Linked DNA regions of Homo sapiens: region 2 is linked to region 1. Evidence: fine-mapped expression QTL. Tissue or cell type: whole blood. Region 1 holds a variant in brackets; the other region holds the start of a gene. All regions are shown on one strand. Distances are from middle to middle.

Region 1 (7,487 bases):
TGGCCAGCCTGGTCTCGAACTCATGACCTCAAGTGATTCACCCGCCTCGGCCTCCCAAAGTGCTGGAATTACAGGCTGACTAATTTTATTGTCTATACATGCAGCCCCAACCAGAATATAAGCTCCATAAAATTGTGGATTTTTGTCTTATTCCCGCTGAATATAACAGCCCATGCCTAGAACAGTGCCTTGCTTTCATGAATATATTACATTCCGGCTGGCGCTTTCCTTCCTCCAATGCATGCACAGCTGAAAAAGCCCTTATCTCCCATCGCACTCCTGTTGCCTTGTCCCATGTTCTGACATAAAGCGGATCATCCACATGTGGGGATGAATCTTGTGCCCCGCTGGAAGAGATCCCTGTGGCTGCCGGCCCTGGTGCCTGGGGTGAGACCTAACAGTAGAGAGCTCACTACTAGGAAAGGAGAGGCATTCCCAACACAGAGAAGTAGGGGCGGACAGGTCCCGAGGCTGGAGGGCGTGTGCAGATGGGTCGGGGGAGCAAGGGGCTGTCAGCTTCATTAAGGCTGAGAGCAGGCAGGAGCGAAACAGCTGGCTTTGCTAGCCAGTTACACACTCACCGCTGTCCACGGATCCCTGACACTGGACGACTGTTGTGCCGGTGGCCCCCCCAGGCTGCTGCAGTCTGAGGAGAAAAGCCAGATGGTGACACTGCGTCTCTCCTGCCCCTTACCTCCAGGCACAGTGAGGGGCCCACCTGGGATATAGGCATCTCCCCGGAGCTGGTCAGGCAGATGGCCCCAGTTGGGGGGCTGTGGACGCCGACTCCTGACCAGGAAGGCGCGGGGCATGCCCTCCGGAAGGCTCTCCACACACAGGGGCTGCTTCCACCTGCTGTCAGACCTCAGCCCCAGGATGACTATCCCTGGTGGGAAAGGAGGGGAAGCCTCTGAGGAACCTCATTCTCTTCATGCAAATTTCCTGGCTGGCCCTGGGAGTGGACTAAGCTGGCTCAGGTTACCCCTGCCTGGGGACCTGCCCATCTTCTCCCAGGTTTTGGAGGGAACCATCCAGCCTCCAGGGGTGGACAAGCACTAGGACCACCAAGCAGAGCCAGGCAAGGGGAGATGGGCCTGGGGAGCTTTTGAGGATAGGAAGAAGAAACAAGGCCCCAGGGGGACTGTCTCCCAGGGGTTGAGGGTCTGTTTGCCAGGCAAATCAGTCACCAGGGGACATCCAGCAGCCTGCCTGGTTATTCAAATCACAGCAGCTGTCTGAGGACACTGAAGGGGCCCCCTGCTGTGATTGCCCTGCTCTGTAGGGTGCAGGGAGGACAGCAGATCTGGATAAATCAGGGCAAAATGAGGATCCAGGCTGTGCATCCTCAGGTAGGATGCCCCACCTCTCTGATCTTCAGATTCCCAGGGCTAACATTCAGCCAGAAGCACTGTTCAGGTGTAGCAGGCACTAAAATACTAGTTTGTTAATAATCTAGCCCCTAGTTACTGCCTGGGACAACACTCTTCCTCCCTCCCACAGTCTGGAAAGTAAAAGGGGGTCTCCTATTTTTTTTTCTTTTTTTGAGACGGAGTTTCACTCTTGTTGCCCAGGCTGGAGTGCAGTGGCACCATCTTGGCTCACTGGAACCTCCACCTCCCGGGTTCAAACGATTCTCCTGCCTCAGCCTCCTGAGTAGCTGGGACTACAGGCATGCACCACCACACCGGGCTAATTTTTGTATTTTTGGTAGAGACAGAGTTTCACCATGTTGGCCAGGCTAGTCTTGAACTCCTGACGTCAAGTGATCCGCCTGCCTTGGCCTCCCAAAGTGCTGGGATTACAGGCATGAGCCACCGCACCTGGCCCAAAGGGGGTCTCTTGACACAGCCAGGGGCTCCCAGGACCCTACCCCGGCACACTGGCCAAGCTGTTTTACACTTGATTCTTAGCCAGAAGACTAAGAAGCAATCCAAGCTCTGTTTTTTAATTTTTTTTTTTTGAGGCGGAGTTTTGCTCGTTGCCCAGGCTGGAGTGCAATGGCGTGATCTTGGCTCCTCTATGACCTCCGCCTCCTGGGTTCAAGTGAGTCTCCTGCCTCAGCCTTCCAAGTAGCTGGGATTACAGGGGCACACCACTGCACCCAGCTGATTTTTTGTGTTTTTTGTAGAGATGGGGTTTCACCATGTTGGCCAGGCTGGTCTCAAACTCCTAAATGCAGGTGATCCGCCCGGCTCAGCCTCCCAAAGTGCTGGGATTACAGGCGTGAGCCACCGCGCCCAACCTGTTTTTATTTTTTTTGTTTTGTTTTGTTTTGTTTTTTGAGACAGATTCTCACTCTGTTGCCCAGGCTGGAGTGCAGTGGTACGATCTCCACACACTGCAGCCTCCGTCTCCTGGGTTCAAGCGATTCTGCTGCCTCAGTCCCCCAAGTAGCTGGGACTACAGGTGCGCACCACCACACCCGGCTAATTTTTGTATTTTTAGTAGAGATAGGGTTTCACCATGTTGGGCAGGCTGGTCTCAAACTCCTGACCTCGAGTGATCCACCTGCCTCAACCTCCCAAAGTGCTGGGATTACAGGCGTGAGCCATTGCGCCTGGCAACTAAACAATTTTCTAAGCTCCAGACCTAGCTTACTGAAAATGATCGCGTAAGTCCATGAAGGAGGCACACCAGTGACAGCCCAGAATGACCAAGACAGTGAGAGGCAAGTGAGGCAGAGACCCAGCCATGATGGGGAAAAGAGGGGTACCTGGGGACCCGAACAGGCTCCTGATCCAGGCTACGGGTACAGGGATGGCTTCCTGGATAAGCGCTGAAAGGTTTCAGATGAAAGGGGAGGGTGTTCTAGTCAGAGGGGGACATCTGTACAAGGCTTGCTGGTGAGAGGAGTATTTCTTCATTTCTTTACATTGCCCGAGAGTCAGTTGTGCCAATTCATTTGGGGAAGCAAGGGTGGCAGTGCTGAGGGTCTGCTGGCCATGCATTTCCGCTTGCTCTCTGCAGGACCCAGAGCAAGTCATTTCTCATTGGGCCTCGGTTTCTTCACCTGGAAAATGAGACTAAGGAATCTCCCTCTTCCCAGTTTGTATTGAAGATCCATGTAGCTCACATGGAGAGAATGCTTAGCATGGGGCCTGGCATGTGGCAGACATATAAGCAGGGATTGGTTAGGAAGGTTTTTTTTTTTTTTTTTTTTTGAGACAGGGCCTTGCTTTGTCACCTAGGCTGGAGTGCAGTGGAGTGAACACAGCTCACTGTAGCCTCAAGCTCCTGGGCTCAAGTGATCCTCCCACATCAACCTCCCAAGTAGCTGGGACTACAGGCGTGCACCACCACACCTAGCTAATTTTAAAATTTTTTGTAGAGGTGGAGTCTTGCTATGTTGCCTAGGGCTGGTTTTGAACTCCTGAGCTCAAACCGTCTGCCTGCCTTGGCCTCCCAAAGTGTTGGGATTACAGGAATGAGCCACTGCATCCTGCCGAGGAATCCCTCCTCTGGGCAAACATCCAGGCCTCAGGTGGGTCATCTGCAAAATGGGGTTTCAGGTGGTGTCTCCATTTTGCAATTGTTGGCTTTCCTGCAGCCCTGACTGGGATGCCTGGCACGGGCCTGGCAGCTCAGGACCCAGGAGCTGTCCTGATGGTACTGCTATGGGGAGGCCAAGGGTAGATGTGGGGGTAGAAGCAGGGGGGGAGTTGCAGTGAAAGATGAACTGTTTTCCTTCCAGGGACCCAGTTCCCCAGGAACCCTCTCAGTCCTGTTCTGCCCTGCTCCATGGCCTAGGAGGTTGACTGGAGGCGGGGTCACCTGGGCTTCTATGCACTCTGGCTTCCAGTAGGATTTGGACAATGGGGTGCCCTGCAGGAGGGGAGTAAGGTCAGGGTGTTGATTCTCACTCCGTCCTGTGTGGGAGTCAGGGCTGCAGCTCCCTCAGCACTACCCTCTCCCTGGGATTTGCTCTTTTGGGTTCTTGTTCCTTCTCTTTGTGCCTTGTGGCCTGGGGGTGGTAACAGCTCCCAGGGTGCCAGTCCTGGGGTTCTGCACCAGCCTCGGTGGTTTCCCAGTCCCTGCTGCTCCTTTGCAAATGATCCCTTGGTTAAACTCTTTGGAATATCCCATCTAAGCATGCTGTCATCTTTCTGCTGGGACCCTGTCAGCTCACAAACCACATGCACACATGCTGCACCACCAGCAGTGGCTTCTTAACCAGGTGGTTTATCCTGGTTAAGAAGTATGGAGAAAGTATGGTCCTTCCAGGACAGAGCCTGGCATTTGGAAGAGGGAAGTGGCAGACATGCTGGATCCTCTCTGATTACCAGCCCACTTGCCTTTCTTATTGAGAGAACCTCTTTGTTTGAGCTGCAACATGCCCAGGACAGGAGAGATGGTCCAAGCACATCAAAGCAATCTCCATTCCTGTTGCCTGGGACTCATCTGACCCCAGATGAGTCTCCCAGGGAGACCCCTGGGAGAGATCTGCATCTTTTCTGCTGCCCTAGAGGGTGCCCTGCTCTGTGCCTTTGCTCCTGGTTGGACCAGGCCACCCAGCAGCTGGGACCAATAACTTGGGCCTCTGACCCTCATGTCATTGTGCACCTGGCCTCTTCCTCTCCTGCTGTCACCCTCTGTGAGCCCCCTGCACTCCACATCTAACCTCAGCCTCCCCATAGCAGTACTATCGGGGCAGCTTCTAGCTCCTGCGCTTCCAGGCTT[A/G]TGCCAGGCACTTCAGTCAGGGCTGCAGGAAAGCCAACAATTGCAAAATGGAGACACCACCTGAGGGTGTGCTGCTGGGTGCCACAGCAGCCGTGTTGCAACCATGAGGCCATAAGCTGGAGACTGAAGCTTGCTCACAGAGGATAACAGAGCAGGAGAGGAAGAGGCCAGGTGCATGATGACATCAAGGGTAACCAACGTCCCTCCATCTTGGGCCCTGAAAGCCAGGTGTTTACTCCTTGGAGCAGAAGACTTTACTATGATACAGGTTGGAAGGAAGGGTAATTCCATGCATGACAGAGGCCCAAGGTGGTCTCCTGGGTGTCCGAGGCCTGGGGGGCTGAACACCAAGCTTTGCCCAGGGATGTTGGGCAAGGTTTTGGGCAATGGTGGCCGAACTAGGCAGATGGGCCTAGGCCTAGGCAGGTGGTTCAAGTTCTGGACCACCTGGACTCCCTGAGGCAGAGTCGTGAGAAATAAGCAACACTGGATATCCCCCAAACATTAAGAGCAGAGATTTAGAAACAAACCCAAAAACAAAAAACTGTTCTGGATATTCCTTGGACTTAAATGTTATGAAGCAACAAGGCCCTGCTCCTCCTTGCACCTCAGCTCCTGCCCTCCCCTTGCTCACTCCATTCCAGCCGTCCGGGCTTCGCTCCTCTTGCTTCCACACAGATCACGTGTGGCTGCCCCAGGCCTGTGCACTGGCTGTGCTGTCGGCCTGGATGTGTTCCTGAGATGTCCTCTATCAAGCTTCAGCCCAAATGTCACCTCGAAAGGCCTTCCCTGACCCTTCACCAGCAATGGATCTCCCCAACCTATCTAGAATTATACAGAGCTCTAATTCCTGCATCTGTTTGACTGTATAGAAGGTGAGTGGCCATGAGGGCAGGTGCGTTGCCTGATGTTCCTTCTGCTACAGTGCCCGGCACCTGGGTGGGAACTGGCAGGATTTTTTTTTTTTTTTTTTTTGAGACTTGCTGTGTCACCCAGGCTGAAGTACAATGATGGTGTGATCTCAGCTCACTGAAACCTCTGCCTCCTGGGTTTGAGCGATTCTCCTGCCTCAACCTCCTGAGTAGCTGGGACTACAGGTGTGCACCACCACACCCCAGCCAAGAGTGGCTTTTTTAGCAGACACCCCATGTGGCCAGATGCCTGCTGTCTGGGGGAGCTGGTAGCAGTGCTGGGAGCTCGTGGAATGTAGAACTTCTGAAGGGGAAGCAGTTATTGGTCCCAGCTGCTCGTGGCCTGGGCCTGCTGCCAGGATCATACAGTGGGCAAGCCTGCCTGGGTTTCTTGTTTTATTTTGTTTTATTTAAAGAGACGGGGTTTTGGCCAGGTGCGGTGGCTCATGCCTGTAATCCCAGCACTTTGGGAGGCCGAGGTGGGCGGATCTCCCAAGGTCAGGAGTTTGAGACCAGCCTGGCCAACATGGCAAAACCCCGTCTCTACTAAAAATACAAAAATCAGCTGAGTATGGTGGTGGGTGCCTGTAATCCCAGCTACTCGGGAGGCTGAGGCAGGAGAATCGCTTGAACCCGGGAGGCGGAGGTTGCAGTGAGCCAAGATCGCACCACTGCACTCTAGCCTGGATGACACAGCAAGATTCCATCTCAAAAACAAAAATAAATAAATAAATACATGAAATAAAGAGATGGGGTTTCACCAAGTTGCCCAGGCTGGTCTCAAACTCCTGGCCTCAAGCGATCCTCCCACCTCAGCCTCCTGAGTAGCCGGGATTATAGGTGCAGGCCACCATACCCAGCTTGGGCAAGCCTGTTCATGGGTCCTCAGTTTCCCCTGTTGCAGATGGGGACACCACCACCGTGGACTTTGTGGGATCTAGTGTGGCCTTGGCCCAGAGGCCCTGAGCCATGATATGGCAAAGCGTGGACTGCTGGGCAAGGTAGGCACATGGTGATCACAGCAGCCCCAGTGAGTTCTCAGGCACTGGCAGGGGGCAGGTAAGAGGGTCTGGCTCCTCCCTGGGGCACAAATGGGCCCCACTGGGTAAGCACCTCACACTGGTCTGTGGCAGCTCTGTGGGCAGTGTGGGAGGACTGGCCCTGAGGTCATGGCTGCAGTTCCTGAACTTCTTGGGAGCGCTGGTCCCATGCTCTCCACTGACAGACACGAGTCCTCTGGGCATCACCTTCTACCCTCCCTCCCCACTTCCACTTGAAGAGGGCTTTGTGGATAGGCCCAAACAGACACCAGGAACCATTCCTCAAAGCTGTCAGTTTATTCGCTTAAAATACCTAAGTCCTCAGAAGCAGCAGGGCTGCGGTGGAGGGGCTGCGCCCTCAGTGCCCCCGTGCCTTCCTCCGCACGGCCTGCACCAGCAGCTCCGAGTAGTGTTCCAGCAGGGCCTGCAGGTCTGGGCTGGCCAGGGGGTACAGCGTCGGTGGGGACGGGGGTCCTGGGCTGGGCAGAGCCTGGGCTGGGGCCACACTAGTCCCCACCAGGCATTCAGCCTCCAGCTGGCTGTGGATCCACAGGAAGGTGGAGACCAGCTCAGTCCGTGCCTGCTGCTGCCCGGTGTCCACCTGGCCACTGGAGACCAACTGCAAGGGATGCCAGCCTTGTCAGGGGCCACCAAGGCCGGGCGGTCTCAAGAGACCCCTCAACCCTTTCCCAACTCTGGGGCTTAGCTCACCACACGGTAAAGGTCGAGGGCTTCTTGGAAGGTGGTCTGCAGCCTGTGCAAGATGTTCCCCACCCTGCTCAGCTCAAGGGGAGATGGGGGCAGGGCTTCAACCGGCACCCAGGGCTCACTCCAGCGGGCAGGGCTGCCCTGTAACAGA
Region 2 (6,004 bases), 74 kb after region 1:
ACCATGCCCAGCTAAGTTTTGTGTTTGTAGTAGAGACGGGGTTTTGCCATGTTGGCCAGGCTGGTCTTGAGCTCCTGACCTCAGGTAATCAGCCCACCTCGGCCTCCTATAGTGCTGGGATTACAGGTATGAGCCACCATGCCCAGCCAGGAGTCTCAGATTGATAGTCAGTGGTTTGGACATGACCCACAGATACAATTTGTTTGGCCTCCGCAGTGCTTTAAAATAATTTATAATGGCCGAGTGCAGTGGCTCACACCTGTAATCCCAGCACTTTGGGAGGCTGAAGCAGGTAGATGACTTGAGCCCAGGAGTTTGAGACCAGACTGGGCAACATGGTGAAACCCTGTCTCTACAAGAAACACAAAAAATTAGCCAAGTGTTGCACCTATAGTTCTAGCTATTTGAGAGGCTGAAGTGGGAGTATTGCTTGAGTCCAGAAGGTCAAGGCTTTAATGAACTGTGATTGTGCTACTGCACTCCAGCCTGGGTGACACTGTGAGACTCTGTCTCAAAAAAAAAAAAAAAAAAAAAGTCTGGTCTTTCCTGAAGGCTCTGCATATCTAGCAGCACTGGGCTTGGATTCTCAGGTGATAGCAGTTGGCTGGAGCTACAGTGTGGCTGCCTCTGGGGCCTTGAAGTTTGAGACTGTGGCCTGGGGCACAGAGGGACAGTGGGGCAGGGACAGAGCTCAGACTCGGGCCTGGGGCTCTTTGTGGAGCCTGCCAGATCCCCTGAGCTGACTGCCTCTCTCTGCCTCCCCTCCTGTCATTCAATCTCTGTCTCCTACTCATCTATCCCTACCTCCCAATCTCCTCCCTCCCCAACATTCATTGTCTTTCTGCCCATCATCTCTGTCCGCCACCTGTTTCCCCACCTCCCTGTGTCTCTCTTTATCTGCATATTTTCTGTCTCCCCCATATCTCTGACCCTGTCTGTACGTCTGTCTGCCTGCACATCTCTTTCCCCCACGTGTCTGCGTCTGTGCCCCCGCACTTCTCTTCCCATTTCCCCACCCTTCTTTCCTTTCCCATGAATGTCTCTCTGGCCCTCACATCTGCTTTCCTGTCTCCTCATATCTCTCCCCACATCTCTCTCTGTTTCCTGACACGCCCTCCTGCCACCTTTGCCTCCCTGTTCCTCACCGTTATCTGTCTGTCTCTCCCGCAACTTGCTTCGTAATGTTCCCCATCTCTACCACTTCTTTGCCTTAGACAACAGCCCAGACCCTTGGACCTGAGGAATCCCAAACCTTCACCATCATCTGTGGAGGGCCTGACATAGCCATGGTCCTTGCCCAGGACCCTGCACCTGCCACAGTGGATGCCAAGCCGGAGCTCCTGGACACTCGGATCCCCAGTGCATAAGGATCAAGACAGACAATGTCGAGGGACAAAAGATAGAAGATGGAGGAGGAAAGACATTATACGTGGGCTTGGCCCAGCCCCACCGCCCACGCCTGGGTAGTAGCAGTGCCTCCCTCAAGGGCCTGGGTTCTACCACCCCACTCCTAGGGATCTCTTGAACCTTAGGGGTGACCTGGGCCCAAGTCTCTCATCAGCCCCCAATCCCCTGGGTACCAGGCTTCTGCCACCCCCGGCTCAGATCTTTGCAAATCAGTACGACAGCCTCAGAGCAGAGCAAGGGTTGTTTGGGAGAATCATACCTGGTTCTAAGGAGTCCCACGCTTTTTGCCAAGCCTGGTACTGAGTTCATGATACCATGGTGGACACAGCTGAGAAAATCCCTGCCCTCATGGTGCTCATTCTACTTGAGTAGACGATGAACTAGTAAACAAATAAACAAGAACACTGCAGACATGAGCGATGAGTGCTATAAAGACAACAAAAATTTGGTTTGGGCCTGGGGGAGGGCCCTCCAAGGCCATGTTTTAGCAGAAACCTGGGTGATCAGAAGGGGCTGGCCTGGAGCGCTACAGGCTCAGGTTCCAGAGGACGAACAACCCCTGCAGTGAGGGCCTGCTGTCTGGGATGTGTCAGGTCTGGGAGGCGGTGTTGCTATGGAGAAAACCATAGTAGGGAAGGGAGGAAGGGGTGCAGTTTTAGAGCAGAGAAGGTGAAAAGACACCAACAAGTAAGATCCTAAAACAGGGCAGAGAGGGAGCCACGTAGGGATTTGGAGGAAGAGCATTCCGGGCATCACAAAGAGCCGTTGCAGGCCAGGCACGGTGGCTCACGCCTGTCGTCCCAGCACTTTGGGAAGCTGAGGCAGGCAGATAACCTAAGGTCAGGAGTTTGAGACCAGCCTGGCCAACATGGCGAAACCCCGTCCCTACTAAAAATACAAAAATTAGCTGGGTGTGGTGGCACAGGCCTGTAATCCCAGCTACTCGGGAGGCTGAGGCAGGAGAATCACTTGAACCTGGAAGACAGAGGTTGCAGTGAGCAGAGATCATGCCACTCCACTCCAGCCTGGGGAACAGTGAGACTGCCATCTCAAAAAAAAAAAAAAAAAAGAGCCAGTGCAAAGGTCCTGGGGTAGGGAGAAGCAAGGAGGCCAGTGTGGCTGGGGTGGAGTGAACAAAAGAGGGTGAGAGGAGGTGAGTGCAGAGATGATGGGGCAGGTTCACATAGGCCCTTGTGGGCCATGGCTGAGAGCCTTGGCTTCTACCTGGAGTGAGGTGCAGCAGGCAGACCCCTCTGAGGGAAAGAGGGCTCCAAAGTGACAGGTGTTCATGGGTCCCTGTGGCTGCATGTTGGAGGAGGACGGGGACAGCAGGTAAGAGGCTGCTGCCGTAGTGCTGGTGGCAGAAGAAGAAGGATGGACCAAGATGAGGGCCCAGGGTAGCGGTGGGGAGAGTGAGATCCTGGAAATCTTTTGGAGATGGAGCTACTGGACCTGTGCATTAGAAGGATGAGGTGTTCAAGGCTGTCACCCAGCCCCATCCAGGCTGGGATGATTTGAGGCAGAGCAGGCTACAGCTCCAGGTGGGAAGCCAAGCCATGACAATGGAGCCAGGACCCTGGGCTGGCTTCAGGAGGCCTCCGTGGGGAAGATACAGGTTCTGAGAGAGTTGGAGGGGTCAATCGGCAGATCTGTTTCCCAGACACTGCTACAGGCATGTAGCATGGTGATTAAGAATCAAAGCTGGGCATGGTGACTCGTGCCTGTAATCTCAGCGCTTTGGGTGGCAGGGGCAGGAGGATCCCTTGAGGTCAGGAGTTCAAGACCAGCCTGGGCAACATGGCAAAACCCTGTCTCAAAAAAAATTCTCCAGACATGGTGGCATGCACGTGTGGTCTCGGCTACTCGGGAGGTTGAGGTGGGAGGATGGCTTGAGCCCAGAAGTTTGACGCTGCAGTGAGCCAAGATCACAACACTGCACAGTAGCCTGGGTGACAGAGTGAGACCCTGTCTAGGAAATAATAAAAATAAAAATCAGACTTTACAGACTGTCTGGTTTCAAATGTTCGCTCCATCACCTACTCATGTACTTTTGGGCAAGCTGCTTAACCTCTGGGCCCCAGTGTGTGAGCCTCGCATTATGATGGTAAGGATGAGATGATCATGATAGGAGTCTCTAGGAAATCACCCCTCTGAGGCACCCATTATGAATGGTGAGCTTGGAGAAGGGGTCCGGTCTAGGGTCCTAGAGAGAGGGTCCCCTAGAGGGTCCCCATCGTCACCACGCCCCAAGACCACTGCCCTCACCGGCCTGGTTTGCAGGCGTGGGGGAAGGGGATGGAGAAGATCTGTGTCCGCTCTCTCAGCCCTCTCTTTTGCCGTTGTATCTGCTCATCTCGCTCCTTTCCGTAGCCATCTCTTCCTCTCCCAGTGCCCGGAGGCTCTCCCCTTTCAGTCGCCGCCTCTGGCCCCTCCATCAATGCGAGCGCCTCCCGGTCCCTCCTCCTGGTCCCTCCTCCCCCGCCGCCGGTAGGGGGGCAGCAGGCGCATGCGCAGTCGCGCCCCTCCCTCTCCGCCCCCACCCCCTGTCGGCGTCTGGGCCTCGTCCCCTTCTCTCTGTCTCCCTTGCCTCCCCCATCACGTCCCCTGACACCGACACCCCATTGCTCCCACAGTCTCCCCAGTCTCCACTTTGGTCCCCAGCGCTGTCTGCCCGAGGTAAGATGGGGAGGGGGCGGCCCGCGGAGAAGGGGAGGGGCGAAGCATCCTGAATCCCGAGATAAACAAACCCGGGGAGGGGGCAGCCGCGACTGAGGGGCCTGACGCGGGAGGAGAAGAATGGGGGGCTGGGCCTGGGGGAGGTGGCAGGCGCTGGGCGCACACACCGGGGCCCTCTATGGGTAACGGGGGTCCCTATGGTTGCCCAAGATCCAGTTGCGCGGAGGCCACCCGGGGCCCTGGAAGCTCCTAGGGGCTTGGACCCTGGAGCCTGCCGGGCACCCTCTCCAGCTGACCTCTGCCTCCAGGATTTGCCTGAAGGCTGCCCCCAACTCTGCACCCGCCCCCCGAGGGCCACCGAGGACCATGACTAAGACAGATCCTGCCCCGATGGCCCCGCCACCCCGAGGAGAGGAGGAAGAAGAGGAGGAGGAGGATGAACCCGTCCCCGAGGCCCCCAGCCCCACCCAGGAGCGCCGGCAGAAGCCTGTTGTGCACCCCTCGGCACCTGCCCCCCTCCCTAAGGACTACGGTAACCACTGTCCCCACCCTGGAATCTGGCCTGGAGCGTTGGGTGGCCGGGGAGGGTGGGCTGTGCTCTGCTGGTGGTGATGGTGGGAGAATTCTGGGGAATTTGAAGGTGGTCCAGAGGAATCTTGGCTGCAGAGCACCCCTCGTTAATTCATTCATTCACCCATTGGAGAATGGAATTGTAATACTCCTAGTCTTTGACTCATGACACATCATTCCATCATTTAGTCATTCAACAATCATTTTTTGAAAGCGGCTGTGGACCTGGCTTTATGCTAGGGGCTGGGGCCACAGCAGGGGGCAAGAGAGACCCAGTCTTTGCCCTGAGACAACTCACAGGCCTCAGTAACAGCCACACAAATAGGTATTAAACCATAATGTAATTTTTCACATTTAGGTTTATATGCAAGAAAGAAAAATATAATGTAATATAAATATGTAATTACAAGACATTATGAAAATTGTATTTACCATAAACAAGCTGCTGCAAGAGTTTTTTAAGACATTGTTTCCCTGAGGAGGTTACAGTTGAGAAGACTGGAGGGTGAGTTGGGGTTAACTAAGAGAAGGGTCAGGGGAAAGGGCTCCCAGGAGAGGTAACCGCTGGGTAAAGGATCTGAGGTAGGAGGGTATGGAGCTGAGAGGGCGGCCTCTTGGAGAAACTGAAAGTGTCTAATCATTGACCGAGCGATATTTATCGAGTGCTGCTACTCTGTGACAAGCCTTATGCTGGGTGCCGGAGATTTAATCCTAAGTGATCCAGGCATGATCCTCCCTTGCAGGAGAGAAGGAGAGACTAAACAAGTGAACAGATAAATAAATCAGAAATCAGATAAATTCAGATTGGAGCAAGTGCTATGAAAGAAAGAAAAGGTGGGCTGGGCATGGTGTCTCACGCCTGTAATCCCAGCACTTTGGGAGGCTGAGGCCAGCGGATCACCTGAGGTCAGGAGTTTGAGACCAGCCATGGCCAACATGGTGAAACCCCATCTCTACTAAAAATACAAAAATTGGCTGGGTATAGTGGCATATGTCTGTAATCCCAGCCACTCGGGAGGCTGAGGCAGTAGAATCGCTTGAACCTGGGAGGCAGAGGTTGCCCAAGATCGAGCCACTACACTCCAGCCTGAGTGACAGAGTAAGACTGTCTCAAAAAAAAAAAAAAAAAAGAAAAAAAAAAAAAAGAAAAGAAAAAAAGAAAAAAGAAAAAGAAATTAAAGGTGGAGATACGATAATGACTAGGGGGCAGCTACCTGCAGGGGTAGTCAGGGCTGCTCTTTCTGAGTAGGTAACATTTAGTTTGGGACCCAGAGCATGGGGAGGAATCAGCCATAAGAGAGCTGGAAAAAGAGTGTTCCAGGCAGACAGCAGCAAGTGCAAAGGCCCTGAG

What was found. PIP is the estimated chance that this variant, and not a neighbour inherited with it, causes the effect.
Region 2: CLIP3 starts here. The variant in region 1 is fine-mapped to the expression of CLIP3 in whole blood (INTERVAL, PIP above 0.99).

The regions. Positions count from the first base shown.
Region 1 is chr19:36,104,528-36,112,014 of GRCh38, reverse strand. It overlaps WDR62 (WD repeat domain 62), which reads right to left. Exons shown (of 32, transcript NM_001083961.2): 31 at 7,340-7,487; 32 at 6,907-7,247. The coding sequence ends at 6,987. OVOL3 (ovo like zinc finger 3) reads right to left here and starts at 872. Exons shown (of 4, transcript NM_001302757.2): 1 at 719-872; 2 at 582-646. The coding sequence starts at 812. RefSeq lists enhancers at 13-642, 643-1,273. The variant A/G (reference allele first, on the strand shown) is at 4,678.
Region 2 is chr19:36,030,803-36,036,806 of GRCh38, reverse strand. It overlaps CLIP3 (CAP-Gly domain containing linker protein 3), which reads left to right and starts at 3,934. Exons shown (of 14, transcript NM_015526.3): 1 at 3,934-4,083; 2 at 4,392-4,615. The coding sequence starts at 4,450. THAP8 (THAP domain containing 8) reads left to right here. Exons shown (of 4, transcript NM_152658.3): 4 at 1,215-1,823. The coding sequence ends at 1,367. All of the region lies in intron 3 of LOC101927572 (a long non-coding RNA gene), which reads right to left. RefSeq lists a silencer at 1,035-1,208.